3 linked regions of the Homo sapiens genome follow. The protein of the gene in region 1 interacts with the protein of each later gene in a pairwise test. Each region holds a gene or a part of one and is shown on either strand. Other genes may lie near its edges.

The links.
Region 2: the proteins of COQ8A (region 1) and CLTA interact in binary tests that used the Homo sapiens proteins (3 or more experiments, as listed by UniProt).
Region 3: the proteins of COQ8A (region 1) and FGD5 interact in binary tests that used the Homo sapiens proteins (3 or more experiments, as listed by UniProt).

Annotation. Positions count from the first base shown.
Region 1 is NC_000001.11:226,984,684-226,988,612, reverse strand, and holds the end of COQ8A (atypical kinase COQ8A, mitochondrial), read right to left. Parts: intron 3,738-3,929; coding exon 3,672-3,737; intron 3,360-3,671; coding exon 3,273-3,359; intron 2,161-3,272; coding exon 1,876-2,160; 3' UTR 1,069-1,875; downstream 1-1,068. UniProt on the Homo sapiens protein: Atypical kinase involved in the biosynthesis of coenzyme Q, also named ubiquinone, an essential lipid-soluble electron transporter for aerobic cellular respiration.
Region 2 is NC_000009.12:36,185,837-36,194,349, reverse strand, and holds the start of CLTA (clathrin light chain A), read right to left. Parts: upstream 3,430-8,513; 5' UTR 3,294-3,429; coding exon 3,077-3,293; intron 1-3,076. UniProt on the Homo sapiens protein: Clathrin is the major protein of the polyhedral coat of coated pits and vesicles.
Region 3 is NC_000003.12:14,919,213-14,927,390, forward strand, and holds part of FGD5 (FYVE, RhoGEF and PH domain-containing protein 5), read left to right. Parts: intron 1-1,134; exon of another isoform or gene 1,135-1,271; intron 1,272-1,500; exon of another isoform or gene 1,501-2,247; intron 2,248-2,705; coding exon 2,706-2,805; intron 2,806-3,088; exon of another isoform or gene 3,089-3,198; coding exon 3,199-3,336; exon of another isoform or gene 3,337-3,833; coding exon 3,834-3,963; exon of another isoform or gene 3,964-4,136; intron 4,137-4,764; exon of another isoform or gene 4,765-4,789; coding exon of another isoform or gene 4,790-4,795; coding exon 4,796-4,926; intron 4,927-6,857; coding exon 6,858-6,986; intron 6,987-8,178. UniProt on the Homo sapiens protein: Activates CDC42, a member of the Ras-like family of Rho- and Rac proteins, by exchanging bound GDP for free GTP. Mediates VEGF-induced CDC42 activation.

The sequences.
Region 1 (3,929 bases):
ATCCCCACTGTCTTCACAGGGAGGGCTCTAGTTCTCAGCCGGCTCTCAGACTTAGGACACACAAACCACATTCCAGTTTTCCCTTAGAAAACTTCTCCTGTTCCAGCAGTTATGGTCGTGGTTCCTGGGGAAGCAAATGCTGGCTGCTGTTGTTCTCCTCTCCCTTCCCCCCGCATGCTGCTGCTTGACTTGTTTGGCTTGTTGTTCAAGAGGAAGAGGAGACTGTGAGAGCCCTGGCTGGGGCTGGCCTGGGTTCTTCCCCTGCTGTTTACTCTGCAGGGCGATGGCTTCAGATCTGAGTGCTGCAGAGGAGTTTGCTAGACAACAGCAAATACCCTTAAGAAGAGGGCCACAAGAGTTTCAGCCAGGGATCTGACAGTGGTGCTGGGCGCCGCTGCTAGCCAGGCAGCCTCACGGACGCCACCCAGGCCTCTCCATCCTGTCCCGGAGCCCACTGGGTCTGCTACTCGGCAATCCCAAATTTCAGAAACTATATTTTCTTTCTTTAAGAACCCTGAAAGCCTATACCTCTCAAAGCCTCTTTTGGGCCTGTGCATTCTGCAGATGCACTTTCAACTGCTCACAGGTCCGTAGAAAGGGCCCCAGCTCAGTGTCCAGTGTGTCCTGTTATCTAGGAATCAGTCTGGCCCCAGGAAAAGCCACTTTTCAGGACGTGGTCCTCAACTGCAGCTGATGTCTAGAGAGGAGACGTCTCACTGTGATGCAGACCTGGCATCAGCCGTGCTGGCAGGTGTCACTGTCCTCCCAGTTGCCACCATCACCAGGTACAGCAGCTTCAGCAGTGTGGTACAGCCTCCCGGGGGCTGGGGCAGTGACACCGCAACCTCTCCTCCTGTTCTCCACCCCTCCCACCTCCCTTCTTACAGGGAACGGGGCTGAGCCTTCCAGGTTCAGGGCCAAGGGCCTCACGCTGAACCAGTCCCAACCCTTGCAAATGGGCTGTGACACTGAACCTGCTGACCGTCAGGTCAGAAAAGAACCACCACCACGAGCTAGAAGATACGGGTCGTCATTCTCCAGAATACAGAAGAGGGTACACGCGCCAAAGCACTTCCCATGAGCATTTTTATTAAATTGAAACAAGTTGTTGATTCGATAATTACAAGACTTGTACAAAAATTCACAGCGCCTGTGAGGAGCCTTTGGCTGGAACTGGTGACACCTGTGCCTCTCCGGACAGAGGAAGGAAGTCCCACCCCGCCTTCCAGCAGCAGCGAGCCTGTGTCTGGCATTCCCTGTTCCGCTGCTCCCACCCTCACTGTGGGGCAGCAGTTCTTTAGGAACATTCAGCTGTCAAAGGTGAGAACCAGCCCCACAGGCCTGGGCCTCGCAGGCTTAAGGAGCACTTGTTGGCACTGTTAGCTCAGCACCTCTCCCAGCTCCAGCCCATCGGCTGGAGAGGAAAAGGGCAGAAAACACAAATCTCACTCTAGAAACACATACACACACCTACTACACAGATGATAAAATCCCACAATCGTATCTGTTCATGTTTCTGGGTTTTGCACTGAACAGAGATTGGAAGGGAGTAAGGACTCTCTCCCTTCTGCTTAACATTCACATCAGGAAAAAGAAGAAAACAAAGTTGCCCTTTCATCTTCATCTGCTTATTTCAGAGGACACACGGAGGCAGACTGACCGAGCAGTGGGGCTTCATCTTCATTCTTGCACTTCTCACCCTACAACCATTTAGCAACAGAAACCGTGGAAAGCGCTGGCTACGGGGCTCCAGGCAGCCACCCCCCTTATTGGGCAAAGGAGTTAAAAAGAGCATCACCACGACCTCGCTACTGGTTTTTGGCCTGTCTGAGGGAGAGAGTTCCCGCGGAGCCGGCCTGGGCGTGGCCCGCAGCCCTACTGCTGGGCCTGCCTCTTGCAGTAGTTGCTGTAGGCCTCCTCGAACATGGCCTTGCAGGGGAAGCGGGCCTTCAGCTTGGAGCAGATGAGGAAGGAGCCCCCCATCTTCCTGTGCAGGGAGTAGGTTTCCTCGGGTGGGGGGACGAGACGGTGCCTCAGCATGACGGGAATCAGGTTGTGGATCTTCTCGGTGGTGCTCTGAGTGCCAAAATCAAAAGGCTCATCAGAGGCGAAGGCCTCCCCCAGGATGAGGATGGCATCCAAGTGGGCGTCTTCCATGACCTGGGGCAAGAGAGGAAGGATAAATGGCGGCGAGACACCAGAGCCCTCCACCAGCCCGGGTTCCTCCCACAGTGCCCGGGGCGCTGAGTTCTCATTCAAAGCTCTGCTGTAAACTGGATTACATCATGGTAATGGGCATAAACTCAAACCCACAGGGGCCGGGAACACGAGGGTAACATGGACTGGGCTGATGTGATACAAAAGGGAGTGGCGGGGCCTGTGGCAGAGTGCAGAGGATGCGTCCCGCCTCGTGGCACTCATACAGAGTTTTAACAAAACACTGTTCTGGCCAAAAAGAACAGAGTCCGTGGGCCTAAGCTGGCAGGGCCTCCCACCATGCGTGTCTGAGCCTGCCAGAGTCCACCCAAGACACACCCAGCAGCCGTGTGTCTGCCCACGGGAACTAGCAACCTAAGGAAGCCGCCGCCAGCAGAGCAGGGGAGAGGAGCTGCCGCCAGGGACAGCCCAAGGTGGTCAGAGGGACGGGGCGGCCAGGAATCGAGTCAGTGCGAGTGGCCATAAGGAAGAGGCGGGAGAGAGCTGCTGCCCGCTGAGCGCTTACAGCTGAGATAAGGGGGGCTCAGAGATACTGACAAGCCTCAAATGACACTCCTATGAGACGGCAGACCCAAGGCTTGACCTGGATTTCTTTAACTCCTTCCCCACTGTCAAGCAGCAAGCGGAAAATGCCACTTTGTGGGTGGCTTCAGGCGGCACCAGCACAGACCGTTCCCCTTTATTTAAAAGGCTTCTAAGGTTTCTTCCAACTCCCCCCAGGGAGGCTCGATGAGGGGAGGGCTGGGGCTTCCCTTCCCACTTGCTCTGCACGTTGGCTCAATCGAGGCCCAACCCCAAGCCCTAAGTGGGCAAGAGTGAGAGGCAGAAACAAGAGCTTCACGACAAGTCCCCAACTCACTGGCCCACTCGGAAAATCTCACGCTCAGCAGGGCAGCATGGGCCGGGGTGGGCCCCAGCTTTCAGACCGTGCCCAAGGAGGCCCGGGCTCTGGGGGCCCCTTGAGGGCAGCTGCCCCCTGTGCTTTCATCCATTCTTACACAGGGAGCCGGGCCCTGGGTCAGCAGGCCCAGGGGATCCCCCGCAACCCTGCTCACCTTGACCTCGTAGCCGGTGAGGAACTTCATCTCTATGGATTTCGCCCGCACAGTCTCCCTGTCCCTGTCGGCAGCAGCCCTGATGATCTGGGGAGAGGCACAGGAGGGGACCGTGGGCAGCATGAAAAGCTCAGCTCCCGACATCCCAGGGAGCCAAGTGCCACACCCGAGCCCACCCCACCCTCATCCTCTCCCTGCACAGGGCCCCCGGCCAGTGCTGTGACACCACGCCTGGCAGCTGTCAGCCTAACTGCCTGCTGTCACCAGACCTGAGGGGCAGGCAGCGCAGATGGGGACACAAGGGCAGGAACCCAGTCATTCTCCCTACCCCGAGTCCCCCAGCATCCTGTCCCAGCCTCAGAAAAACATGGACCAAGGCCAGGGCCCCTCTCCAGTTACCTGAATGTAGAGGTCGGTGAAGGATCTGTCATATTCCCGCGTTGCCCCAAAATCCAAAAGAGCCACCTGGGGACAGAGACACCAGGAGAAGTTTGGCCCTGGTGCTCCATGGTGCGGGTGTGTGGGGCCGGGAAGGGGGTGCAACAGAGGGCAGTGAGGATCCCCACTCCCAGAGCCCTGAGCTCTCTGCTGACTTTCCCAGGACAAGGGGCAGTCCAGGGCCTCACGTGCCCCATTCGGAGAAGCTCTCAGGCCTGG
Region 2 (8,513 bases), on another chromosome or scaffold:
TTCTCCTACAAGAAATAACTTGTCACCGGGTGCGGTGGTTCACACCTGTAATTCCAGCACTTTGGGAGGCCAAGGCGGGTGGCTCACCTGAGGTCAGGAGTTTCAGACCAGTCTGGCCAACATGGTGAAACCCCGTCTCTACTAAAAATACAAAAAGTTAGCTGGGCACGGTGGTGGGCGCCTGTAATCCCAGCTACTCGGGAGGCTGAGGCAGGATAACTGCTTGAACCCAGGAGGCGGAGGTTGCAGTGAACCGAGATCGCACCACTGCACTCCAGCCTGGGTGACAGAGCGACTGTCTCAAAAACAACAAAACACCATAATAGTGCCTTACTGCTGTACTCTCTCTGTGGCTTGTCTCTCCTGTTCTCTTCCCCGACTCAGCCCTCATGATTGAGAGCTTTTCAACAGCTCCACTTGTGCTGCCTCCTTCATGACCACCTGTTCTTCCTCAATATCCCCCACAGCTGGTTACCTCAATATCACTTCACCCAGCTGGTTTCTTCCTGCCTCTAAACCTACGTCTCTTTTCTGGATCTCTTAACAACCAAAGGAGTCATCCAAGGCTTAGCCCTAACCCCTCTGGTTTTTGCCTGTGCCCATCCTCCATAGACGCTTTCCGCAAGGCTGGGGCCAGTTTATTTTCCTCTCATCAATCTGTCATAGCTGACTGCCTATATATCTCTGTATAATACATCAGAAAGAGAGCTCCCGCCTAAAACCTCAATTTACTCAGTACACTTCAAAGCCTAAAGGCCTTGTAACTCCTTTCTCCCACTAATAGTAGCTGGAATTCACTAGATACTTAATATAACTGTAAGCACTTTATAGACACTCTTTAATGTAATCCTAAAGATGCCACATAGCATTATAAATTATATTATGCAACTTTTACAAAGGAGAAAACTGAGGCCGGGCAGTGGTGGTAGTTATATACATTGTCTGAGATCACAAAGCTAAACTCACACTCAAGCAGTTTAGGATAGCATAGAATCTTAACCACTAGAGCATATCTTTAAAAAAAAAAAAAAAGAAGGAAAAAGAAAACTAAGAGAGAAAAAGTGTCCAATCAGTTCTCTAAACTCCAAAGGAAATGCTGACCACTGCATATTACCAACTTCAATTACACTGTCAGGAATCTGGCTTTAAGTCACCAAATGCTTAGTTCACTAAGAAAGTCCCTCCTAGGAACTAAGTCAGCAACCATTTCTTTCCTTCCCTTTGCCGAAGGCTTGATGCACAAAGGACCGAGCATCCAACTCTATTCTCTCCCTTTTACCTTCCCTAACTGCCCGTCACCAAGATCTGTCAGTTCTACATAGGACCCTTGGATCTGACATTTTTGCCCATTTCTTTGTCAAACGTGAGCATCTACTACATGTCAGACACACTGCTAGGCAGTGGAGATAAAACAGTAAGGGTAACACTGTCCTTGAATCAGGACAATCTTCCAACTACAGATCTTGGGTTCTGCTTCTCCCAAATCTGTTCCACCTGGGACAGCCACAGCTGCCTGTCTGTTATCGCACTACACCCCTGCTAAAACAACTAAACACTGCAACAGAATGTGGTATATTCTAAGAGTGGGTAGACTTGGGGCTCAGCTATTAACTCGTGCTTTTTTAAGCAAGTCGTTTCTCTCTAGGATTGCTTCTCTTCTATTAAATGAGGAAGGTTAAACTAAGGGTCTAAGAAGTCAATTTTAAAATTCTCAGACAAATGTTAGAGACCACCCAATGAAAATATCCCCTAATCACTTAAGGCCAACTTCATCTCACAATCACAGCCTAGTTTAGTCCAACCTACCCGCTATAAAGTTGCATATTCGGGCATATTACATGTTCCCACTAAGTTCTTATTGGGGGACTGATTTGTTTAGGAAGCAACATGGTGCAGTCAAAAACTCAAGAGGCTGCAAACTAGCAGCACACCCACCAACCCATCCATCAAAAGGTTCCGCCTGGCTGGCACAGTAACTTGAGACTGCTGGATCTGAATGCCTTTACACAGAGCACTACTATAGTGCAGCAAAGCCTCAGTCTCCAACACTTCTACTGTCTCATGTCAAGCCAGCTTCTCTCGTATATGTTACCTACCTGGCTCCTTAAGGTTTGAATTTAGGGTAGACACTACTCCTATATGCCCCAGTAGTGCCCTATTCTCCCTTAGTTGGAATTTTTTAAGTGAATGAAAAGCCGTATTTCATTTCTTCTAGCTAAATTTCCTACTTCTTTGTATTATTAAGTAGGTCTTTTCCACTCATGATCCTAAGCATCACACACAGGTTAAGGCATCCAAAGGTCAAACTGCCATCCTACCTGCCCCATTTTTACTTGAGTTTGGCTGAGAACATTCTCTATTCACCTCTTCATCCCTCCCTGATTGGTTTAGGCTAATCTTGGGTTCTGCTTAGGCAATATTGCCTACCAAAGCTGTTCCCAGAGGAAGAGCTCCAGAAGTCCTAGCTGTAAATCAATCGCTCAACGATAGCAAACTCCTACCGCGCTTGGCAGTTCTTTCTCCAGACCTAGATCATCTTTCGAGTTCCCTACTCCCTCCTTCCTCCTCGTAATCCAACACTCTGTACACCTTAAGTGCTTAAATGCTGAACTGCATTGCTACTTTTGTTTGTATCTCTCAAAAACGATATTTCCATTCTTATTTTTTTCCGCCCTCCTTTTCTAATAACGAGTTCTGTGCTCGGCTCAGACTTATAAGCTTATAAGTCTGGAAAAACTGCGCCAATGCGGTTGCTTCAGAGACCGGACTAAAGGCACAGCAAATGCTTAATGAAAAGTTGCTGAATTGAACGGGCTTCTTCCGGCTCCGGAGCCTGCCACCCTACACTTGCTTTCTCGCTCCGCCCGCGCCCAGAAGCACTCAAACATGCTGAGAACCGAACAGGCTTCTCGAGCCTAGGTTTCTGAAAGACCGGGCCAGGGTCTCGTTTCCTGTTTGCACTGCTCCCTAACCTCCTAATTCAGCAAGGAGCACGAGTCACACAGAAGCTCTCGGACCCACTGTGGACCGAGTTTCCAGACAAGTCCTCTCGCCCCAAACGCGCCCGCACTCTCACCCGGACCCCCCGGCGGCTCGCCGTGCGGCTGGGGCCCGGGGGCGCCGCCGTCCAGGATGGCGAAGGCCTCGTCGTTCTCGATGCCCGCAATCTCGCTCTCTTGCTGCGCCAAGAAGGCCGCAGCCGGGTCTTCTTCGCCGGCGCCGGCCACTCCGTTCCCCAGCGCGGGACCGCCAGGGGCGCCGGCAGGGGCGCCGAACGGATCCAGCTCAGCCATGGCGGGCAACTGAACGGCACGGACACCAACGGTGAGACAAAAACCAACCGACCCACCGACACCACGCCCGGCAGCCACCGCTGTGGTGCCGACTGGGAGAGGAGGACAAGCGCCAGGAGGGAGACGGGTAAAGCGGAAGCCCTACCCGTGTATCCGGTCGGTCTAGGCGGTGTTGCAGAGCCGAAAAGGGAACAACCAATCAGAGGACAACAATGGTTCAGGAGCTACCCAATCAGCAAGTGGAGGGGCGGTCCCCCTAAAACAACTCGTGACTGGGGTAGGGCGGGAGGTGAGGGAGGTGAGCTGCGCGGGCCCCGGGAGGCGGAAGTGCTGCCTGATAGGGAGCGTCCTACCCACCCCGTCTGCTGGAGCTGGACTGACCAGGGACGGCCACCCCTGAGGGGACTCTAGTGCTGCACTGGGAGGTGAGGTGAAGTTAGGGCAGCGACGATTGGCCGATTACTGAAGAGGCATGCCACTTAGGCTTTCTGAACCTCAGTTTCCTCATTCGTAAAATAGAAACAAGAATCCTGCTCTTGCGCCCCCTCCCGGGATTATTAGAAGATTGAATCCTAAAAAAAAAGAAGAAGAAGATTGAATCCTTTTATGGATTTGAGGGTCCCTGGCTTTATAAATTTAAAATATTTAATTCTTTCAGCCAGCCTGGATTATTTGCTCCCTTAGAGCCCATAGATTTACTGTAATTGATTCAGTCCACTCCGATTTTTCTCGCCCATAAGTATTTTTATTTAAAAATGAATATATCTTATCTTCTTCAACGAAGCACTTTTGCAGCCATTACGTCTTTTCGGAGCTAGACAGAAGTTACTAAACCTGGAAAATTCCTTAAGGATCACTTGCTTCAAAGGGAGACACGGTGGCCCTGCTGTTCAAGGAGCGTCAGTGACCCAGAGAGTCAGTGACCAAGAGGAAACGCCTGTCTCCTGGGGACTTCCAAGATACTAGCTACAGTCTCTTATATTTACACCTTTCCTCCCTAAGGACAGCAGGAAAAAGAAAGTTCCGTGTTTCTTTTTAAATCAGGGAGATGTTAATAGCTACATGGCTCATTTTGTCTACACCACAGAAATAACAGTGGTTCCAGTTAATCATGCTCATGTTGAGGGGGAGTGCTTATGCAGGGGCCACCAGAAGACCCCTCTCCTTCACTACCACCACCACCACCCTAAGAAATGAAAAGCCAAAAAAAGAAACCAAAAAACCAGAGGTCAACAAGAAGCTTCCAGAGGTAGTCAGCAGGGGACAAGAAAGTGTTTTTATAAAAAACGCACATATCTTTGATGACAAAAAAAAAGGGATAGCTATGAAGGAAAAATGAAGCAAATAAAAATTATTTAAAGCATATATTTACTTAAAGCATAATTTTAAAGTCATTTAAAGTATGAACCATAGGAAAGTGTTGAAGAAAAACATTTAAGAAAGTTAAAATGTTAGGGTCTGCAATTGATTCTGTTTCCCCTTGTCTGTTGTTTTATGCTCATCCCTAACATACATTGGCAACAGTGCATGAAGTATTTTCACATTAGCCTTGACATAGTCTCATGAGGAAAAGAGGGGCAGGGACTACTATGAGAGAGCCCAAGGAAGACAACTTTTAGTTGCTCACAACAGTAGTAGCTCCGGAACAGACAGCATTCTTTTTGGGGAAATGCATGACTTTGGGAGAAACTCTCCTGTGATTCCCTTGCTAGAGGAGGCATTACATATTATGCAAAAGCAACAAACAAGTATACACTCAAAATTGGAGGAATAGCTGATGTGTTTACGGATGATTTCACAGAGGTGGCTTGGAGCTCAGTTTTGAAATATGGGGAACGTTTAGAAGAGTCAATAATGAGGGTCTAATGTTAGTGTCATGTAAAAGTTCAGAGGTGGGAAAATGTTTGGCATGTTTTGGGGACAGTGAGTAAATTAGTTGGAGTCTGAAGAGCTCAGCAAGATGAATAATTGAAGGAAAATCTGGGGACAGATTCTGGAGCCCTGAAAGCATTCCATGTTAAGGAATCTTAATGGCAATAAGGAACCATAGAAGGTTTCAGATAAAGGAATGTTTTGATCAACTGCTGCTTAGGAGGTTAATCGGGTCCCTGGTTGCAGGATGGATGGGGCAGAGGCTGTGGGCAGAGATGTCAGGAGTGACATGATGAAGGTCTGGGCAGGGCAGAGGTATGGAGCTGAGTGGGGAGCGTTGATGGGAAAGCGGGTCCCAGTAGGGAAGTGACTAACTTGGTGACCGACCAGAGGTACGGGCTGGGAAAAAGGCAAGGGGAAAGGATGGGGTCATAAATCATGAATCTGTGAAATTGCCAGAACCATTAGTTTGAGGGCTTTGGGGGAGCCCAGGTGATTGCTGGGAGACAGAAGATTTAGAAGATGTCCAGGAACTAGAAGTGTGTAGCCTGCCATGATCCCTGGTGGACTGAACAAAGGTGGGTGGGCAATGGGAATAAAAGACAAGACAAAAGAGTATATTTGGAAGAAGGGGTCAGGGGGCACTTTGCCTCTAGTGGACAAGGGCCCTGAGTTTTACACATCCCTCCGTATTTCGTAGGCAAAAGAGAGCGAGAAAGGGGGGGTGATTGTCGGTAATTGTCAGTTAGAGGTTTGGTTCACAGCAGGCTTGTGAGACTGCATCTTTTGAACAATAGGTGCTAGATTTCTTAGATAACTTCAAGGAGCCCTGCACCAAGGAGTGATGTCCATCAGCAAACCTTTTGGTGGCAGGTGCAGTGTGTTTGCTCACATCCTACATTCATGATAAACAGTTTGCTGTTTGATCATATAGCCTCCAGTGGAATGCTGAGTTGGTCACGATCCCTTTGGCCTTTTCGGCTCCCAACAGAAGTGTGTATAGGAGAGAGTGGGACCACAGATGGAGACTAGAGAGGGAAGGACTGAGGCCTAAATCTTGGAGGATGGCTATATGTGAAGGAGGTAGAGGGGTGGGTCAGAGAGATTGGAGAGGGTTCAGTTAGAGCTGGGTGATGGAAGTCAAGCAGAGTTTGCAGAAGGAAGGAGTGACTAGCAGAAAGGTGAAGAATGAGAGCTGAGCAGATGCTCTTGGCCATCAAGTTCCCTGGTCACCTTGGTGAGAGAGATGTCAGTGGATGCCAGGAGTGGAAATCAGTTTGCACTAGGTTGAGGGATGGAAGCATAGTGGACATCTGTTGGTTCTGCCTGCCTACATCCAATTCCCTTTGTTCTGATACCAGCACTCCAATATTCCTTTGGGGAACCATTCTTCCTCATTTTCAGTTTTGTGGTTTGGATTGAGTGGACCACCCCCATGTGACCCAGGCCTGGCCAATTAGAACATCCCATTCCCTGCCCAAATGATTGGGAATGGACAAGTGAGTCAAACCAGGCTCATGAGGCTCAATTCCAGGACTGTTACTAGAATCTTAGGGAAAGAGCTAACTCTTTCTGCTGGAGCTGACAAGCAGGCAAAGTGTAAGCTTAGAGCTTCTTGTGGTCATCTTGTCATCAAGAGGAGAGATTGAGAGTGAGAATGAGGTCAACATGGAGGAATGCAGAGAGTGAGAAAGACAACTTCCTGTTGGTATCATTGAGGACCTGGATTCAGCCATGCTTGAAGTGAAAGATCTACTTCTGTACTTTTTGGCTCTGTGAACAAATAAATTCTATTTTTTTTCCCCTTAAGACAATTTTGAGTTGTGTTTCTGTCATAAAGAATTCTGCCTAATCCAGGCCAGGCACAGTGGCTCACGCCTATAATCCCAGCACTTTGGGAGGCCAAGATGGGTGGACCATTTGAGGTCAGGAGTTCGAGACCAGCTTGGACAACATTGTGAGACCCCGTCTCCACTAAAAATACAAAAATTAGCCAGGCATGGTAGTGTGCACCTGTAATTCCAGCTACTCAGGAGGCTGAGGTAGGAGAATCGCTTGAACCCAGGAGGCGGAGGTTGCAGTGAGCCGAGATCACGCTGCTGCACTCCAGCCTGGGCAACAGTGTGAGACTCTGTCTCAAAAAAAAAAAAAAAAAAAAAAGAATTTTGCCTAATATAGAATGAGAAGTGAGGGCAAATTTAAATGTAGAAGACATTAGAAAACTTTGCAGCCGGGCACCGTGGCTCACACCTGTAATCCCAACACTTTGGGAGGCCGAGGAGGGTGGATCATCTGAGGTCAGGGGTTCGAGACCAGCCTGACCAACATAAAGAAACCCCGTCTCTACTAAAAATACAAAATTAGCTGGGTGTGGTGGCACATGCCTGTAATCCCAGCTAACTCGGGAGGCTGAGGCAGGAGAATCACTTGAACCCAGGAGGCGGAGGTTTGCGGTGAGCCGAGATCACGCCATTGCACTCCAGTCTGGGCAACAAGAGTGAAACTCCGTCTCAAAAAAAAAAAAAAAAAAAAAAAAAAGGTTTGCAATGAGGGCCGGGCATGGTGGCTCATGCCTATAATCCCAGCACTTTGGGAGGCTGAGGCGGGCAGATCACTTGAGGCCAGGAGTTTAAGATCAGCCTGGCCAACATGGCAAAAACTCACCTCTACTAAAAATATAAAAATTAGCCGGACATGGTGGCATGTGCCTGTAGTCCCGGCTATTGGAGAGGCTGAGGCATGAGAATTGCTTGAACCTGGGAGGTGGAGGTTGCAGTGAGCTGAGATCATCCCACTGCACTCCTGCCTGGGTACAGAGTGAGACTCCATCTCAAAAAAAAAAAAGGAAAGGGGAAAGGAGGAAAGGAGGGAGAGCTGTGGCTAGAGAGGGCTCTAAGGTTGGGGTGATGTTTAGGTAAGAGAGACTTGAATGCTTGAATACATTTGTATGCCGAAGATAGAGGTTGAAGTCATAGAAGAAGGAGAGGTGGTGGGAAGGATGGGCTAAGGAGGGAGGATTTTAGAGGCAGAGACAAGGCTGAGGACAACTCTGAGGGACTCAATTGCTCCAGTAAAGTGAGAACCAGTAGAAAAGAGAGGAGAGGTTTAGAACCACCAAGGGGAAACTCAATAGATGATGGCCAAGAAAGACCTAGAAGGACTGTATTGTTCTAGTCAGGGTTCTCCAGAGAAACAGAATCAATAGAAGATGCATAATATGTATACATGTATATATATCCATATGCTGGGGAACAAAACACCATGGATTGGGTGGCTTAAACAGCAGAAATTAATTTTCTCACTGTACTAGAGGTTAGAAGTTCAAGATTAAGGTTCCAGCTGATTTGG
Region 3 (8,178 bases), on another chromosome or scaffold:
CCTGCCTTTTTGCGTTCCTGTCTAGAAGATGAGAGAAAAAAAATAATAAGTGAGCGTTCATCACTTATGTTGCCCTGTCTGTGTGGTGTCTTAGTCCATTCAGGCCACTATAACAAAAATACCAGGCCGGGCGCGGTGGCTCACGCCTGTAATCCCAGCCCTTTGGGAGGCCGAGGCGGATGGATCACAAGGTCACAAGATCGAGGCCATCCTGGCTAACACAGTGAAACCCCGTCTCTACTAAAAATACAAAAAATTAGCCGGGCGTGGTGGCAGGCACCTGTAGTCGCAGCTACTCGGGAGGCTGAGGCAGGAGAATGGCGTGAACCGGGGAGGTGGAGCTTGCAGTGAGCCGAGATTGCACCACTGCACTCCAGCCTGGGCTACAGAGCAAGACTCCGTCTCAAAACAAAAACAAAAACAAAAACAAAAATACCATAAACTGAGTGACTTATAAACAACAGAAATTTCCCACAGGCTGCAGGTCAGGAAGTCCAAGGTCAAGGCACTGACTGATTCGGTGTCTGGTGAGGTTCTGCTTCCTGGTTCAAAGACGGTGCCTTCTCACATAGACAATGCCACCTCATGTGGTGGGAGGAGCAAGGGTCTCTCTGGGGCCTCTTGTATAAGGGCACTAATCTCATTCGTGAGGGCTCCACACCCATGGCCTCATCACCTCCCAAAGGCCCTGCCTCCCAACACCAGCACCTTTGGGAAGAGGATTTCTGCATTTGAATTTGGGGGGACACAAACATTTAGACCACAGTGGGGCATGGCATTTCTATCAGAAAGGTCTGCATTTTCTCCAGGCCCTCGGGTTGCCTGGGATCCTCATCTCTGGCTTCAGACCATGACCTTAAAGAGCATCCCCTTTTCCTTCTTTCAGGGCAAGGTAAGCTCAAGCTCTCGGGGGCTTGGAAACCAGGGAGGTATGCCTCCAGCCAAGAGTAGCTCTTCAGCCAGGGACGTGCATGGCAGGGGTCAGCAAGGCTTCTGGGGCTTGGGTGTCTACTCTCAGCAAGCACATGAGATGGGATGGCAGCAGTGCCTATCACATGGGGGTTTATCCTGCATTGGGCGGTTCTGAGTGTGAAATGGGATCTAAATGCACTCATGCACATGCACTCTCATAGATGCATTTTCTCATTAAAATCATTTATTAGGTGGGGCATGGTGGCTTATACCTGTAATTCCATCAATCTGGGAGGCTGAGGCTGAAGGATTACTTGAGGCCAGGAGTTTGGGACCAGCCTGGGCAACATAGTGAGACCCTGTCTCAAAAAAAAAAAAAATTTAAGCATTTATTAGCCACACCTCAGTGCCAGGTCTGGCAACAATTTAGCCGTTGTTGTGCTCTCCAGGAGCCCACATTACAGGTAGGAGAGTTGTAAACTGCTTCAGATGCAGGGCAGTAACTGCTGTAACAATTAATAGTGGTAATGACAGCAGTAACAGGCATTGGACACCTGTCAGGCCCCAGACGCCGCCGTGATCCTCATCACCACCCTTAGAGCTGGGGTTTGCGGCTCCTTCCATGCATAGGGAGTTGAGGCTTGCAAAAGGGTCACACAGCCAGGTGAGGTGGAACTGGAGTTTGAACCCAGGACTGTGTGGACCAGAGCTCTTATCTGTTACAGTCTACTGCATGAGGGAGTAGAAAAGGGCTTGGAAACCCAAAGGAGGGACTGCCCCATCTGGAGGAGTGAGGGAATGCTTCCTGGAGGAGGTGATGCCTGGGTGGGGGTCGTGGCCTCACCTCTCCTTGTGATAAAATCAAGGGCAGGAGGCTGCCAGCAAATAGTTTCTGTTAGTCCGGCCATGACTTGAGGGTGGTGACGATCCACACGTGGGCCTTCAGGTGGGGCTGCCCATCTCCCAGGGCAAGGACAGTGGCCTTTAGCATGCCAGTCACCTTCCTGCTAGTCCAGACCCTTCACACTTGAAGCTCCCAGGGGACCGCAGGACCCATTCATCACATTTTAGGGACATGGTGTCTTGCTGCCCACAATGCTGATTCAGCCTCTGCCCTGCAGCACTGCTCCCGCCCAGGCCAGCGGGCCCTTATGCTTGCTTTCCGGGGCAGGCTGCACACTTACCTGTGGTGTAGGCGCGGCATCTAGTGGACACTGTGAGAACTTCACCCAGCTAGCTGGCACCCAGCCCAGGCGTAGCTCTTGCCACTCAGGAAGCCCTCCCTGGTGCAGAGCAGGGACTTGGAAAGTGCCTGTTGGATGACTGTCTGGGAAGCTATGTGGGGAGATGAGGAAGGTGGGAGACACAGATGTTTACCTTTGCCAGCTCCCACCTACCCCTCATCCTCCACAGGTACCCAGCCCTCTGTCCCCTGCCAGCCCGTTTCTCCTGAAGTGTGGGACCCTCTGGGCCTTCCTAATGTCTCTTGCTTTTGCACAATGTTGACAATGTGGTTCCACGTCCCACATCTCCCTTCATCCCCACAGCAGCCCTGGGAGTTAGGGGAATATCATTATTCCAGTGTAAGAAGAAACAGACCCAAGGACAGCTAATGGACCAGTGGTCTGCTCGTAAACCTAGTCTGGCAGGTGATCTCTTCTTTGCTGGTGGTTCTGGGCAGTGTGAGAGGTGCAGGCTCAAGGGGCATCTGAGTGAGAACCTCATCCATGCCGAGATGGAGGGTGGGAGGCAGAGCTGCTCCTGCCTTTGCTCACTCCAGCCCATGCCCGCAGCTCCTGTGCAGAGAGGGACGAGTGGTATGGCTGTCTGAGCAGAGCCCTCCCTGAGGACTACAAGGCCCAGGCGCTGGCTGCATTCCACCATAGCGTGGAGGTGAGTGGGTGGGCAGGGCCCACGGGCCACCAGCTTCAGAGACCTGGGGTTCCCTGGGCGGGCATTGCTGTTGCCACTCACACCCAGATGGACGTGTAGCTCCTGTCTTGGGGCACTGGCTCCCCCCACACCCCTGCCATGCTCCCACCCTAGTCAGGGGCGGCCTCCGTGTAACCTAGGAGCCCAGCACCCACAGTCTTGTTCTCACAGTCTGGCTGTTTCCCAACCAAGGGTGAGCATCCTGGAGGGTGCAGGAGAGGCCTTTCACATCAGACCCACTCACCCACACATCACACACCCTGCACAGAGACGCAGGGCAGGGCTCACTGGGCTCTGCATCTGGCTGGTCTCCTGGCCACATTCCACATTACTCAGCCAATTCTGTTGCTGCAGATACGAGAGAGGCTGGGGGTTAGCCTTGGGGAGAGGCCCCCCACCCTGGTGCCTGTCACACACGTCATGATGTGCATGAACTGCGGCTGCGACTTCTCCCTCACCCTGCGGCGTCATCACTGTCACGCCTGTGGCAAGGTGAGTCGCTGCATCTGGGGTGAGTGTGTGCATGGGGGTGGGGTGGGGGAAGGGCATGTCCCTGCCCAGCCGGGGGCTCAGGGATGTCCAGCAGCTACTGTAAGCCCCAGAGTGAGGCATGTTCACACCAACCCGAGAGGAACAGATTGCTAATTCCCATTTTATAGATCATCAAACCAGAGCTCCAAGTCCCAGGCCTCTTCCACACCACCACGTTTTCAACAGAAAACCGTAGCATACGTGGCTATTGTGCTTGGAGAAAAAAGTATCATGTAGTGGTTAAGGGCGCGGGCTCATCAGAAAAGCAGATAGGCGCTGGCTCAGAAACAAGATGAAGCCTTGCCGGAAAAGTAGGGGACACGCACAGCTCCATGATCAGAACCTGGGGCTCCCTAGGGGCAGTTGTGGGTGGATTAGCAGAGGGAGCGGAGGGGAGGGGTGCAGGTCTCCTTTGCATGCACTGAGAGGGGTGAGAATCTTCCCACCTGGGCCTGCAGATCGTGTGCCGGAACTGTTCGCGGAACAAGTACCCGCTGAAGTACCTGAAGGACAGGATGGCCAAGGTCTGCGACGGCTGCTTCGGGGAGCTGAAGAAGCGGGGCAGGGCTGTCCCGGGCCTGATGAGAGGTAACCTGGGGACCACTTGCCTTCTTCCAAGTGGCCTGGTGGCTTCTCCCCAGGCTCCAGTGGCTTCTCTGTGGTCCATGGTTCATGCCTGAAACCGCTTTCCCTGGAGGGAGTTATTCACTCCATGGAGGGAGGAAACAGAGGTTCGGGCACCATTTTCCAATATGTGGATTCTGTGGAAAATTGATCGGTGTCCCCAGAAGAAGAGCTCTGTGGGTAGCTAAGCTTAGGAATCAGTGTGTGTGTAAGGGGACAGAGGCAGGGAGCTCCTGTGTCCTTTACCATAGAGGCCCTCTTGTCAAGTATCCTATAGGCCTGTGCCTGTAGCGCCTTTCTGGGACTAAGGACTATATAAGCGTGGCAGCAGAGGAGCTGGGGTCAGGGAGGGGTGAAGCTGTTCCACACAGGAGCCTTGGGAAGCTGAGCCGGCCCCTGAGAGACCTGGTCAGTGCTGAAGGGACAGGCCTTGCCCAAGCAGGGTCAAGTTCCCAGGAAGGAGAGCAGGTGTATCTTGGGCCTAAAACTAAAGTCTTTCCCTGGCCTCCACTCCACGGGGCTGGACTAAGGTCATCAGAGAAGACAGCCCAGTCCCTGCTACCTGGAGGCCTGGAGGTGAAGGGCTGTCCAGCGCCCTGGAAAAGCGTCCCCTCCCCAGCCCCCATAGCCTTTGTCTGTTCCTGCAGGAGGGAGGGAGGAAGAGTGCTTGACTTTCAGGTCCCACTTAACCCCCATGGCTCACATTCCTAGAGGGATTTTACAGGAATCAGTGTTCCAAAGACAAGCCGCAGGCACGCCTCTCACCTCCCTTCCATGTGGCTTCTTTCAGTTACAGAGCGGCCTGTGAGCATGAGCTTCCCGCTGTCTTCACCCCGCTTCTCGGGCAGTGCCTTTTCATCCGTCTTCCAGAGCATTAACCCCTCGACCTTCAAGAAGCAGAAGAAAGTCCCTTCAGCCCTGACAGAGGTAAAGCAGGCAGGGCTACCCAAGTGGGAAGTAGGGCATTTGGAAGGTTCATGGTCATCCTGGGTAGACGGAGTCAGACCCTGCCCTGTCCCAGCCTGACCAGTCTCTTCCAGACAGAGCATTCCTAATGGAAGCATCCCAGCTACGAGGACCGACTTGACAGTGATGGTGCTAGGCGACATCTTTCCCATCCTTCTCTCTACCTCTCCCCTCCTCCTCTTTCTTTTCTCTCCTTTTTCTCCTGCCCCATAGCTTAGATCTAGTACCCAAGCAGACTGCACAGATCACGGGGGCTCTTCATTCTAAAGGAGCCAAATTCCTGTGTTGGTCCTTCCATGTCATCCCCTCATCCTAGGGGTCCCAACCCGGCTCAGGTGTTGACGTCCCTGGAGGCCATGGGCTCCGCAGGAAACTTCAGAACTGGCTAAACTCAATTGTATCCCACAAATAGGACCAGATTGTATGTCTGTATTTCCATTCACAACCACAGACCAATGTATGTCTGTGAATACACAAGGAGTCCACAAGTGTGATCAGCTGCTTCCAAGTTAGTCCATTAATATCAAGTAGCAGGTAGCAAGGGTTTAAAAAAGTGTTAGGGAATGGAAAATTTAAATAGGTACAGTTTTATCCATTAACTTGTTCCTTTTGCAAATTAAAAATCTTGGAAATCACACATACGGCCGGGCGCGGTGGCTCACGCCTGTAATCCCAGCACTTTGGGAGGCTGAGGTGGGCAGATCACGAGGTCGGGAGATCCAGACCATCTTGGCTAACACAGTGAAACCCCATCTCTACTAAAAATACAAAAATCAGCCGGGTGTGGTGTCATGCAGCTGTAGTCCCAGCTACTCGGGAGGCTGAGGCAGGAGAATCGCTTGAACCTCAGGGAGGTGAAGGTTGCAGTGAGCTGAGATGGCGCCACTGCACACCAGCCTGGCGACACAGCAAGACTCTGTCTCAAAAAAAAAAAAAAAAAAAAAAAAAAAACACATACATGGTTAAACATTTTTCCCAAAAAAGTACAAAACAGCACATATGATGAAAAGTGAGTTTCTCATCCTTCCCAGCCTCCCTCAATCCCACTGCCATCAAGTTTCTTATGGAACCTTGTGGAAATTTTCATGCACATACATAATACAGATGTACATTCATAGATCTTCTTTTTCTACCCAGAAGACAACATATTATACAGAATCTCTTCTGTTTTCTCCACTTAATTTGTCTTAGAGATCATTTCATAATCACATATATGTATAAACCTCACATTTTTTACATTGCATTCCTCTTTTACTAGTAAGGAAATTGAGACTTAGAAGAAGTCAGCAAATTGCTCATCATTAACCACCTAGTAATTGGTAGAGCCTGAATGGGAAATCCAGGTTGGTATTAACTCCAAGCCTGCGTTCCTCACCACATAAAGCCTGTGGACAGAATACTACTACCCCCCGCCACCACAAAGAGTAGTAATAATAATAAAAGGACTTAACGCTGCACACACCCCACTAGGCAGGAGACTATAATACCTTTTAGGCAACAGTACAAAGAGGATCCCTCCCTAAATGTGAGGAAGAGATAAGTTGAAAGTGCAAGAGTTAATTTTAGAAGGAAGAACCTTTCGCCGAAGTACCTGAACGAAGTTTCTTGAGTTGAGGGGCTTAGGTTGAGAGGGAACCAAGAATCTGAAAAACCACTAGAGGGCAGCATCAGCATTCCCAAAGTCAGCTGGGTCCATTCATTAAATCCTGTTTCTCAAAGCATGAAGCACTATCTTGCTGACTTTGGTACTGGATAGATCCTGAGACCTTATCCAGTGTCAAAGCAGTATAAGTAGTCAGCCAAATGGTTTGCAGTGTCATTTTGAATTGTGCTCTGTTTGAACTGTGCCTGACCACCGGGGTGGGCTGACCGCTCTGCTTCCCTCCTGCCAGGTGGCTGCCTCTGGAGAGGGCTCTGCCATCAGTGGCTATCTCAGCCGGTGTAAGAGGGGCAAGCGGCACTGGAAGAAGCTCTGGTTTGTCATCAAAGGCAAAGTTCTCTACACCTACATGGCCAGTGAGGTAGTAGTGATCTGCACTCTCTCCCCTCTCCTCTCTCCTGTGAAATGACCCCCTGGGGCCTGCACACATCCTGTCACTTGCAAAGCTGTGTGAGTCCTGGCTGCTGAGCCAGTTCTGGTGGCAGTCAAGTCTTTAGTGAGCAATGCCATGTGCTCAATGTTGCTGTGGCTACACAACCACATATCACTTCAAAATCTAAGGAATTTGCAGTTTCTTTGTGGATATAAGAAGGTACGGACATGCCAAGCTGTGCCGCAAAGTGTTTAAATGGCACAGGCCCAGCATCTAGGACAAAGATGGAACAAGCCAGCCATGCCACAAAAGAAAACACCTTCCTACTGTCTGCTTAGATTGCTTGGGGCAAAATTCAGCAGTGTGGAGGAAGCTACTCCCTTTTTGTCTGTCCATTTCTTTTATAGGGTAACTCTAGTAATTCTTCTAAAGAAAACTGAAATCTATATTTTATAGAATATCTTACTTTAGGTGAGAGAGCCTTGGAAATCAAGCTTACTTCCAGAGTAGACAGATGTGTGGCCATGGTTGTGTAGCAGGGTGCTGTCTGGCCCTGACCCAGGCTGAACCTGTTGGATAATGTGAAACATTTCTATCTCCATGCTTCACCAGCTGGTGGCTTCTAGGTGGTCAGGCATAGTTTCAGCTTTGAAAATGGGAGTTAAATGTATTCTGACGAGCTGCAGAGGGTGGGTGCTTTGCTCCACTGGGATATGCATGTCAGGGCTGGCTCTTCTCCCCTGGCCACAGATGCTAGCAAATGTGCAAAAGGCACTTCCTTCTTTGGGGCATGAAGCTTCCCTCTGGAAGGACCTGCAACTGTGAAGGTTGCCGTGTGCCCATTCCCAGGGATCACAGAGGATGGCTTTCTAGAAGAAATTGCTTTGGAGCCATACTTAAACACTTAGCAAGGCCCCACATCTGTTTACTCTAAGCAAAGCAGGCAGACAGGGGATCTGCCATAGGCCTGAGCGGCTTGGGTACCCGGTAAGCTGCACCCCACCCTGAGGGGCCTTTGCCTGTGTCCACAGGTGGGGTCTTCCACACTGTGGGGGATTTTTATCTTTCCAAAACAAACTGAACAGTTGTCATGGAAGTGACAGCATAAGCTTATTTTAAAAGGTGGATTTAGGGGCCTGGCATGGTGGTTCACGCCTGTAATCCCAGGACTTTGGGAGGC